3 linked regions of the Homo sapiens genome follow. The protein of the gene in region 1 purifies or fractionates together with the protein of each later gene. This does not show direct contact. Each region holds a gene or a part of one and is shown on either strand. Other genes may lie near its edges. The genes, in order: PRPS2, KLC1 and MGA.

The links.
Region 2: the proteins of PRPS2 (region 1) and KLC1 purify together in Homo sapiens (affinity purification with mass spectrometry; one large-scale study listed by BioGRID and IntAct). This does not show direct contact.
Region 3: the proteins of PRPS2 (region 1) and MGA purify together in Homo sapiens (affinity purification with mass spectrometry; one large-scale study listed by BioGRID and IntAct). This does not show direct contact.

Annotation. Positions count from the first base shown.
Region 1 is NC_000023.11:12,808,291-12,811,942, reverse strand, and holds part of PRPS2 (ribose-phosphate pyrophosphokinase 2), read right to left. Parts: intron 2,710-3,652; coding exon 2,611-2,709; intron 1,922-2,610; coding exon 1,797-1,921; intron 1-1,796. UniProt on the Homo sapiens protein: Catalyzes the synthesis of phosphoribosylpyrophosphate (PRPP) that is essential for nucleotide synthesis.
Region 2 is NC_000014.9:103,667,077-103,670,728, forward strand, and holds part of KLC1 (kinesin light chain 1), read left to right. Parts: intron 1-2,434; coding exon 2,435-2,522; intron 2,523-3,105; coding exon 3,106-3,207; intron 3,208-3,652. UniProt on the Homo sapiens protein: Kinesin is a microtubule-associated force-producing protein that may play a role in organelle transport. The light chain may function in coupling of cargo to the heavy chain or in the modulation of its ATPase activity.
Region 3 is NC_000015.10:41,761,369-41,765,020, reverse strand, and holds part of MGA (MAX gene-associated protein), read right to left. Parts: intron 3,283-3,652; coding exon 3,171-3,282; intron 2,893-3,170; coding exon 2,659-2,892; intron 136-2,658; coding exon 1-135. UniProt on the Homo sapiens protein: Functions as a dual-specificity transcription factor, regulating the expression of both MAX-network and T-box family target genes. Functions as a repressor or an activator.

The sequences.
Region 1 (3,652 bases):
CTCCCTGGCCACAGCCACTTCCTGCTGCTGGCAGAGGCCGATCTCCAGCTGCATGGTCCGTTCCTTCTCTTCTGTGCTGGGAACCCCAGCAGCCGTTGGAAGGCAGCTTTGAGCAGAATGAACAAGGCTCTTCTAAGAATCAGGGCCTGTGTTTCCCTGCAAGAGTGTTAAGACAACTTTCTGGGCTACTTCTAAGCTTTTGTGTTAGATCCTAGGTCCTCAGCTGGGCTGCAGGCAGATGAGGGTGCCAAATGAGGGACAGGCTTTTGATGTCAGACATTCCAAAGGCTGATCACTTGTCACTCTCATCACTCCTCTATTAGTGCACATTTAGAGCTTCCTTGCTTCCTCACTGGACTGGGGGGTAGAAGTCTCTCCTACTTCTCCCTTATGGAGGTCTCTACCTACACAATAAAACTCCCTTCCCAGCTTTTTTTCTTCCCAGATAGCATCTGCAAAGCTCTACAAGGTCATTGGGTCACCAAGCCTCAGCTTGCAGCATTCTCTTATTGTGCTCATCCTTGATTCTGAACACCCTGTACCCTGATTGCTTGTTAACGCCTCGAGTATCTCTGTGAAGCCCTTCAGAGGTGCTACTTAGTACCACGTTCTCACACCACTGGGTGCCTCATCACTGCCGTACTGTTACGACCAGGTTGTTGTTAACTCTCCTTCACCTCAGTTTCCTTTTAAACTTACTTATTTGATAGTCCAGTAATTATTATCTTATCCCCAAGTATTGGCTGCCTGCTGCCCTGTTGTCTGCACATGCTGGGCCTGCGTGGACTGTGTTCTCTTGGTTTTCTAACTTTGGATCAGGCATCGGGTCAGGTTGAGCAGGGAGCACTCACCGAGCAGCTAGGATTGTGAAATTCTCCCTCTGCAGGGGCTCTGCAGCCTGGAGCACATTTTCGTGTGCATTCCACTCCACATCTGAATGTGGCACAGGCTCGTGGTTTGACTTCTCATAGGTGACTATTTCCTCCCCTAAACCAAAGGCCGAGGTAAAGATGGGCTTTCCCCCTGGCTTTTGGCTAGAAATCTGGCCTTCAGCCCTCTTCTCTTCTTCTTCTTCTTCTTTTTTTTTTTTTTAGAGTCAGGGTCTCACTCTGTTACCCAGGCTGGAGTGCAGTGGTGTGATCATAGCTCTCTGCAGCCTGGAGCACCTGGGCTCAAGTGATTCTCCCGCCTCGGCTTCCCAAGGTGCTAGGATTACAGGCATACATCACCGTGCCTGGCTTTAACTCCCTTCTTTATGGGGGTTTCCAGGTGAGTATTAAAACCCAAGCCACCAGGCTCTTGCTGGATCTGATGCCCATCCCCCAAGCCACCTGGACATGGCTTTCCGCCTCTGCTTTATTTCTTGGTCTCAGATATTTCCTTCTTGGTATTCTATGTACAGAGATTTCTTTTAAAAAAAAATTGTTCTATTTTGGCTACCATTTCCAAGTGCTGTTAATTAAAAGACTTATTTTCCAATTAGGCTCATTACTTTTATAATCAGAAAACGATAACTTAAAAAAACCTCAAACACATCTACCCTTTGCTGAAAACAAATAAACCAATATATACCTATTGTGTATGTGTGTCTCTGTATTTTCTTCTTTCCTGAATGACGAAATATTAACAAAGATGATGGGTTTCTGCTCTGGAAGTGAAGCCTGCGGTCTACTTACTTGCTCATTAGCAAAATAAAGCTTTAAGTAATTTACAGCATGCTTCCTTATCTAATACATCGGAAAAGGAAAAACCAATCAGCAGATGGAGAAATCTGCAAGGTGTAGCCTGCATGATACCTTTTGGCTCCCCCTGCGTCAGGTGAAACAATGATACAGTTCTTCCACTCGGCAATGTTTTCCCGAATCCACTGCAGGACTGCGGGCTCCGCATACAAATTATCCACAGGAATATCAAAGAATCCCTAAAGGGAGAAGTGAGTGTCATGTTGCAGGGTTTTGTTTTGTTTTGTTTTCTTTTGTTTTTTTAAACGATAATCGCTTTCATTAAATAACATTTGCATTTTTTGTTCAAAAGAAGCTTTTATAACAGACTCCCTTTTGTTAATTTTAAACAGAATTAAATCAAAAGACAGATATGTTATAGGGGCATATTTCAGTCCAATCTGTCTCTTGGGACATATTCCATTGTCTTATGATGGCCTATATTCTGAGGAATAGAATGGCTATGCAGGACGGTGAGGGAAAAGGTTTGTTGTCTCTTAAGTAGTTATTATAAATCAAATACTTCACGTTCATTATATAACACAAAGTGGCACAGTATAATTTGGCCTGTTTTAGAGACAAAGAAAATAAGTTATGAAGAAGTTAAAAAGTGTACATTATGACTGCCGTTCTAATTATTTTCCATAAGCTGAGATGGAACTATATAGAGCTTACTACCAAAAAGCCATCCCCACTCCTCCAAAATTGACTGGGGGGCAAGGTGGTGATAGAGACTGGAAGTACTAATATCAAATTATATTTTCAAGTTTAGTAAAGACAAAAATCCAAGAGAGTAGCCATATATAAACTCAAACACAAGTAATGTTACCTAAGATTATTTAATTTAACAGACTTGATTTAACCATTTGCAGAAGGAAAACACGGATACCTGTATCTGAGAAGCATGCAGGTCCATGGTGATGATGTGATCCGCCCCAGCCACCGACAGCATATTGGCCACAAGTTTTGCAGAAATTGGGGCACGACTCTACAAGTAAGAACATTAATTTTATAACAGGAAAAGATGGATACTGTTAGATTCCTCCCACTAAGACGTACATGAGAAGGATAAATCATAGATGCAATCAACGAAGCATCAAAAAGAAAATTATACATGTTGTGACAGCAAAAGATATATTCATTCCATCTTATTCAGCAAATATTTACTATTTACATATACTACTGCAAAACTAAGTGCTTGACGCTGGGTATAGAGAACAAATATGAAAGAAGCAAACAGTTAAACATATGTACATGTAATGTCACAATCTGTGTAACTGAAATCATGGTAAGTGTGTAGAAATAAAAGGTACCGAGAGAGAGAGATGATAGTAGTAGGAAGGGCATAAAGTTTAAACAAGATCATTATTAGCGGTCCCTCTGAGGAAATCACTTTTAAGGCAAGTTTAGCAAAGGCGAGGAGAATAGTGTTCTAGAAGGACAGAGTGGCACATGTGAGATCACTGAGGTCAAGAGACCCTCACACAGCCAGAGGCTAAAAGAAGTCCAGCTATTAAAGAGGAATTCATGAGCCGACATTTGGACATGAGCTGACAGTTGGACGCTAACACTATTACAAATGGAAAAAAACAAGGTCAAAGAATGAATACTGTAAGGGGATTGATAATAGTTACTATTTAATTTCATACTTAGTGTCATTTACTGATATTATGTTCTTTGTAAAATTACCTAACTTTTCTATAGCTTTGGTTTCCACATCATAAATTATGGACAATACAACTGCCCACATCAAAGAAATCCAAGAAATTATATAGACACATGATTAGACCTAGGTGGCGTTCAGCATTTTGTTGTAAACAACAGTATTTCTATATATCAGCCACAAAAAAGAAAATAAAAGCTTAAAAAAAGATTTCATTCAAAATAGTAACAAATGATCCTTGTTACACACACACACACACACACACACA
Region 2 (3,652 bases), on another chromosome or scaffold:
CCTCATTTAATTCTCATAACACTTTAGGTAGCTTATTTTATTTTATTTTTTTTACACGGAGTTTCACTCTTGTTGGCCAGGCTGGAGTGCAATGGCACAATCTCAGCTCACTGCAACCTCTGCCTCCTGGGTTCAAGCGATTCTTCTGCCTCAGGCTCCCGAGTAGCTGGGATTACAGGTGCCTGCCACCACACCCAGCTAATTTTTGTATTTTTAGTAGAGACAGGGTCTTGCTATGTTGGTTGATCTTGAACTCCTGACCTCGGGTGATCTACCCGCCTCAGCCTCCCAGAGTGCTGGGATTACAGGCGTGAGCCACCGTGCCCAGCCTTGGTAGCTTATTTTTAAATTGCATTTGCTACAATTCTCCTGCCTCAGCCTCCCGAGTAGCTGGGACTACAGGTGCATGTCGCCAGGCCTGGCTAATTTTTTGTATTTTAGTAGAGATGGGGTTTCACTGTGTTGCCCAGGCTTGTCTTGAACTCCTGAGCTCAGGCAGTCTGCCCGCCTCAGCCTCCCAAAGTGCTAGGATTGCAGGTGTGAGCCACCGCACCTGGCCACTACTTTTTGGAACTCTATTTTGTACTTGCTGACTTTCACAAAAAGTTTGAGGCAGCTTACAATAGGATGTAATAGGATGAAAGAAGAAACAACAATATATTAATACGTGGCCAGAATTAGTGTGCTTCAGAGGTTGTAGAAGCCTTATTAACCTTTCTCACGTTTTTCAGGGGAAAGCCTTGCCAGGCAGTTACTACTACTCAATTGAGAAAGATGTGTGCTAAGTCTCAAAAGCAAGTACTTGTTCTCAGTCACATCAGTAGTGAGTAGCACGCTTAAACTGAGAGTTTCTGGTTCTGGGGTGTTTCTGTTTTACTCCAATCAAGAAAGATTCTTCGTTCCTCCATACTCAACAAAATGGAGGGAGACTGGGTACCAAGTTCAGACACAACAATATATTTACTTTTGTTTGTTGTTTTTTAAAATATTTTTTCAGTATACATGTAGCATATCATCTTCTTACAGCAAGACTGTGCAATAGATCATATACTTGCTTTGTAGATGGGAAGGCTGGGACTGCGTGAGGTCACGTAATGCACCCAAAGCCATGTAGCCATTAACTGGTAGAGCCCAAGCTCAGACACTAGAATTAATTCTGTCTGAAACCAAATGCAAGCTTGGTCCATTGTTCTAGACTGTTGCACTTATTCTGTGCTGGCCAGCTGGCATAGGCAGGACAACACTGTAGTGTGGGGACATTATCTTCCCAGTGGCCTAGATGGGAAGGTTAAGTTCAGAAGCTAGTTGGGTCTGATTCCAGAGTTCACCTTGCCAGTCCATTTATTGGTGGATTTCCTTCCAGTGTTTTTTCCCCATCCATAAGCTTGTGGTTTTTCTTTTTTCTTTTTTTTTTCTTTTGAGACGGAGTCTTGCTCTGTCACCCAGGCTTTAGTGCAGTGGCGCGATCTATGCTCACTGCAAGCTCCGCCTCCCGGGTTCACATCATTCTCCTGCCTTAGCGTCCCCAGCAGCTGGGACAACAGGCGCATGCTGCCATGCCCGGCTATTTTTTTTTGTATTTTTAGTAGAGACAGGGTTTCACTGTGTTAGCAAGGATGGTCTCGATCTTCTGACCTCGTGATCCGCCCGCCTCAGCCTCCCAAAGTGTTGGGATTACAGGCGTGAGCCACCACACCCATCTTTTTATTTATTTATTTTTTGAGACAGTCTCACTCTGTCGCCTAGGCTGGAGTGCAGTGGCACGATCTCTGCTCACTGCAAGCTCCACCTCCCAGGTTCACGCCATTCTCCTGCCTCAGCCTCCCGAGTAGCTGGGACTAAAGCCGCCTGCTACCACACCCGGCTAATTTTTTTGTATTTTTAGTAGCGATGGGGTTTCACCATGTTAGCCAGGATGGTCTCGATCTCCTGACCTCGTGATCTGCCCGCCTCAGCCTCCCAAAGTGCTGAGATTACAGGCATGAGCCACTGCACCCGGCCCTGTGGTTTTTCTTAAATAGTTTAAGCTTAACTTTTATTTCTGTAGTTGAAAATTACATTTAAAAAAGCTGTAGTGAGGCCGGGCACGATGGCTCATGCCTGTAACCCCAGCACTTTGGGAGGCCTAGGCGGGTGGATCATGAGGTCAGGAGTTTGAGACCACCCTGGCCAACATGGTGAAATCCCGTCTCTACTAAAAATACAAAAATTAGCCGGGCGTGGTGACAGATGCCTGTAATCCCAGCTACTCAGGAGGCTGAGGCAGAGAATTGCTTGAACCCGTGAGGCGGAGGTTGCAGTGAGCCAAGATGGCACCACTGCACTCCAACCTGTGCAACAGAGTCAGACTCTGTCTAAAAAAAAAGAAAAGAAAAGAAAAGAAAAGCTGTAGTGATCTACATCTGAAACACTTAATGTGTGTTTTTCCATTTAGGGATCAGAATAAATACAAAGATGCAGCTAACCTACTGAATGATGCCTTGGCTATTCGTGAGAAAACTTTGGGCAAAGATCATCCTGCGGTTTGTATATCCAGTTCTTTCATTCTTTTAATATTTTATTTTCCCCATATATTTCTTTTATCCAACTCATTTTACCATTAAACTCAACAGGGAAAGTTTAAGTGCTGCCTTTTCCCTAGATGGTGCAGGTAGGAGGTCTTCACTTACTCAGTGCTAGTGACAGGCCAGAGCACACTTAATTTGTTTATGACCCCACCTCAAATGGATCACCAACTGTATTGTTTGATTGTAAATCAAATTGCATGTCCTTCTAGAAATTTTTTTCTGAAAATTATATTGTCTTCATTAAAATCTGGTCAGATTTGCATATGAATCTGTTTTGGTTGGCTTTGTGGCTTCCAGGGAAATTTTTAAAAAGTCAGGAATACGTTGTTGATTTGTTTAATTTTAGTATTCTGCAGTGTTACTTTGTATAATCTATACTCTAGTGAATTGCGCTTTTCATTTTAACTGAAGTCATATTGTTCTATCCGACTAAGAATGCTTTACTGTATAGATTGAATATAAATGAATATGTGGTGTATAAATGTACTCTTATTTGGTTATCTTTTACCATTCTTAGTGGTTCTCTCTGTGTTGACAGGTGGCGGCGACTTTGAATAACCTTGCAGTCCTTTATGGTAAAAGAGGGAAGTACAAAGAAGCAGAGCCGTTGTGTAAAAGAGCTCTGGAAATCCGAGAAAAGGTACAAAAGAAGGGGGCAGTCGTTTTCTTTGAGATTTTTGTTTTGTGTGTGTGTGGTTTTTTTTTTTTTTTTGAGATGGAGTCTCGTTCTGTCACCGGGCTGGAGTGCGGTGGCGTGATCTCGGCTCACTGCAACCCCCACCTCCATGGTTCAGGTGATTCTTCTGCCTCGGCCTTCCAAGTAGCTGGGACTACAGGGACACACCACCACGTCCACCTAATTTTTGTATTTGTAGTAGAGATGGGGTTTCACCATGTTGGCCAGGATGTTCTCAATCTCTTGACCTCCTGATCCGCCCGCCTTGGCCTCCCAAAGTGCTGGGATTACAGGCTGAGCCACTGTGCCCGGCGCTGTTTTTTGTGTTTTTAAAAATTTTTCGGTTTTAGGTTTTGAGAAATAACCACTGTGATGTGTTTTTAACTGACTATTAGCTGAAAACAACTCA
Region 3 (3,652 bases), on another chromosome or scaffold:
CAGATTCTAAGAGATCAGGAGAAACAGCTACCACTGGTCCTGAGAATAGGGGACCTTTTAGGGTGAGCAATTGCCCTTGCGGAGTCATCACAAGGTTGGCAGAGGTGTGTGGAGTGTTCAAGGGTGAGGTATTTTCTGTAAGAAAGATCAGAAATTAGTTATAGATAAAAGGCATTCAGCTGGGTGTGGTGGCTCATGCCTGTAATCCCAGCACTTTGGGAGGCTGAGGCAGGCAGATCACTTGAGCCCAGGAGTTCAAGACCAGCCTGGGAAACATGGTGAGACCCCATCTCCATCTCTACAAGAAAAATTTTTTTAAATTAGGCGGGTGTGGTGGTGTGCACCTGTGGTCCCAGCTACTAGGAAGGCTGAGGTGGGAGAATTGCTTAAGCCCAGGAGGTCAAGGCTGCAAGCGAGACACTGCACTCCAGCCTGAGCTACAGAGTGAGGCCCTTCTCAAAACAAAACAGCCAAGTGCGGTGGCTGACGCCTGTAATCCCAGCACTTTGGGAAGCCGAGGCAGGTGGATCACGAGGTCAGGAGATCAAGACCATCCTGGCTAACACGGTGAAACCCCATCTCTACTAAAAATACAAAAAATTAGCCAGGCGTGGTGGCGGGCGCCTGTAGTCCCAGCTACACGGCAGGCTGAGGCAGAAGAATGGCGTGAACCTGGGAGGCGGAGCTGGCAGTGAGCCTAGATTGCGCCACCGCACTCTACCCTGGGCAACAGAGCGAGACTCCGTCTCAAAAAAAAAAAAAAAAAAATACCCACACCAGATTTTTTTTGGCTCATACACTGGGCTATCCAAACATTTAAAGAGTAAAAAAGAATATACCATTTTTTTTTTTAATTTTTTTTGAGATGGAGTCTCACTCTGTCACACAGGCTAGAGCACAGTGGTGTGATTTCAGCTCACTGCAGCCTCCGCCACCCGGGTTCAAGTGATTCTCCTGCCTCAGCCTCCCAAGTAGCTGGGACTACAGGTGTGCACCACCACATCCGGCTAATTTTGGTATTTTTAGTAGAGACAGGGTTTCACCATGTTGCCCAAGGCTGGTCTCAAATTCCTGAGTGCAAGCAATCCTCCTGCCTCTGCCTCCCTAAGGGGTGGGATTACAGGCATGAGCCACTGCGCCCAGCCAGATATACCATTCTCTAAGAATATAAGTAACACATAAAATCAATATAACTTTACTTCCAAAATCAAGATGGTAATAAGAAGTTAAGACTAATTTACTTTGGGGTTTTTGTTTTGTTTTGTTTTGTTTTGTTTCAGACAGAGTTTCGTGCTTGTTGCCCAGGCTGGAATGCAATGGTGTGATCTCAGCTCACCACAACTTCCACCTTCCGGGTTAAAGTGATTCTCCTGCCTCAGCCTCCTAAATAGCTGAGATTACAGGCATGAGCCACCACACCTGGCTAATTTTGTATTTTTAGTAGAGACAGGGTTTCTCCATGTTAGTCAGGCTAGTCTCAAACTCCCAACCTCAGGTGATCTGCCCGCCTCAGCCTCCCAAAGTTCTGGGATTACAGGCGTGAGCCACCGCATCCGGCCTACTGTTTCTTAATAGTAATGTATTAATAAGTAAGTGATCTGATGAAAAATAGAGCCTGATGGCCAGGCGCAGTGGCTCACGCCTGTAATCCCAGCACTTTGGGAGGCCGAGGTGGGCGGATCACGAGGTCAGGAGATCGAGACCATCCTGGCTAACACGGTGAAACCCCGTCTCTACTAAAAATACAAAAAAAATTAGCCGGGTGTAGTGGCAGGCGCCTATAGTCCTAGCTACTGGGGAGGCTGAGGCAGGAGAATGGCATGAACCCAGGAGGTGGAGCTTGCAGTGAGCCAAGATCGCGCCACTGCACTCCAGCCCGGGCAACAGAGCAAGACTCTGTCTCAAAAAAAAAAAAAAAAAAAAAAAAAGGAAGAAAGAAAAATAGAGCCTGATTTGACAAAATTAAATTTTACAAAAAATTTCCCATTTATTGGTCTCAGCTAGACCCAACTTCTTAAACCCATCAGTAGAACTGCAGGGAAATCACGAAGTCAAGTATAAGTCTGAAAAGATAAGTTTAAAAAACTACTCATTAAAAATACATGACTATAGACTAATATGCTACCAGGACTGGTAACTTCTCAGGATTTGCATGAGTGTGTATTACAACCAGAAACCAAAATCGAATGTAGTTAATATTCTACTTTTTATACAACCCATCTTTAATTCATTTAATTAAAACTAAAACTGTGGGCTGGGTGTGGTTGCTCACACCTGTAATCCCAGCACTTTGGGAGGCCAAGGCGGGTGGATCACTTGAGGTCAAGAGTTTGAGACTAGCCTGGCCAACAGGGCAAAATCCCATCTCTACTAAAAAATTAAAAAAACAAATTGGGCATGGTGGTGCTCGCTGTAGTCCCAGCTACTCAGGAGGCTGAAGCAGATAATCGCTTGAACCTGGGAGGTGGAGGTTGCAATGAGCTGAGATCACATCACTGCAACTGCAGCCTGGGCGACAGAGCTGTCTCCAAAAAAAAAAAAAAAAAAAAAAAAAAAAAACCACACAAAACTAAAAATGTGGACAAGAGAAGGTGGTCAGTCCACTAAAGTCAACTGATGTATATCTACATTAAGGAAAGCGAAGAATGTCCCTCCTACCTGTGGCCTGGTCTTTTTTTCTGGAAAGAATCAAAGGTTTCCCCCTCCTGTTATTTATAAACATCTGTCCAAGATCTACAGATGATGCAGAAGATCCTTCCTGCTGTTTGCTAATTCTGGGAGATATGTCAAACTCATCTGATCCCATCTTCTTTTTTCTTTTTTGTGCCTCTAGTGCTTGCTGTTTTGCATAAATATACTCTAGCTTCTTCAGGACCACTTCTTCTGTCTTACCTGTAAGTTAACAGAATACATTAGCACTTTCAGCATTACGCCACATAATGAGAAACAGAGTCAACAGAAATCTAGTTGCTTTAACTATATTCCCAAAAACTATGGAAAGTAAGGTGATTACAATTCACAAGAAACAACCCACCACCCAGTCAAAGGATAACTGTGCTGTAAACTGTGGGAGCCAAGCTTTCAATTAAGTATCTGAAAGATCTACTGAGGATTTCTTCTTGATAAAGCTATAATTATGCTCTTTACCAGAGATTATTTACTTATCTCACCTGAAAGAGACGATACTTTCCGTATCAGAATATTCCGTTTTCGAGTCAGGAGATTTTTCTGTCCTATCAATTTGTCTGCCTGATCTGTTAGTCCCTGAATTTCACTGAAGGCCTAGAATACAAATAGTGGTATTATTGAAAATTGATCCACTCTTTCTTTAAACACAGCTAAGGCCTATACAATTTCTCTAATGAAAAAAAACTTAATCTGACATCTTAAGAGAATTTTTAAATTCCATTAACAATTGTTGATGTTTCAGAAATTATTTTTTGTTAAACTGTAAGAGGATTTCTGGCTTACACTTTTAAGGAATGTGACCATGATTATTTCCAAAGAGCATCACTGAATGGTAGTAGGTATTCCACCACTGCGAGGAGATACAAAACACCTGTGCTCTGCTTAGATTTTAATAATCAACTTTAAGATCAACTCCTAGTCTAACCAAAATCTGGTTGAAATAACTGCTCTAGAGGGATATGAA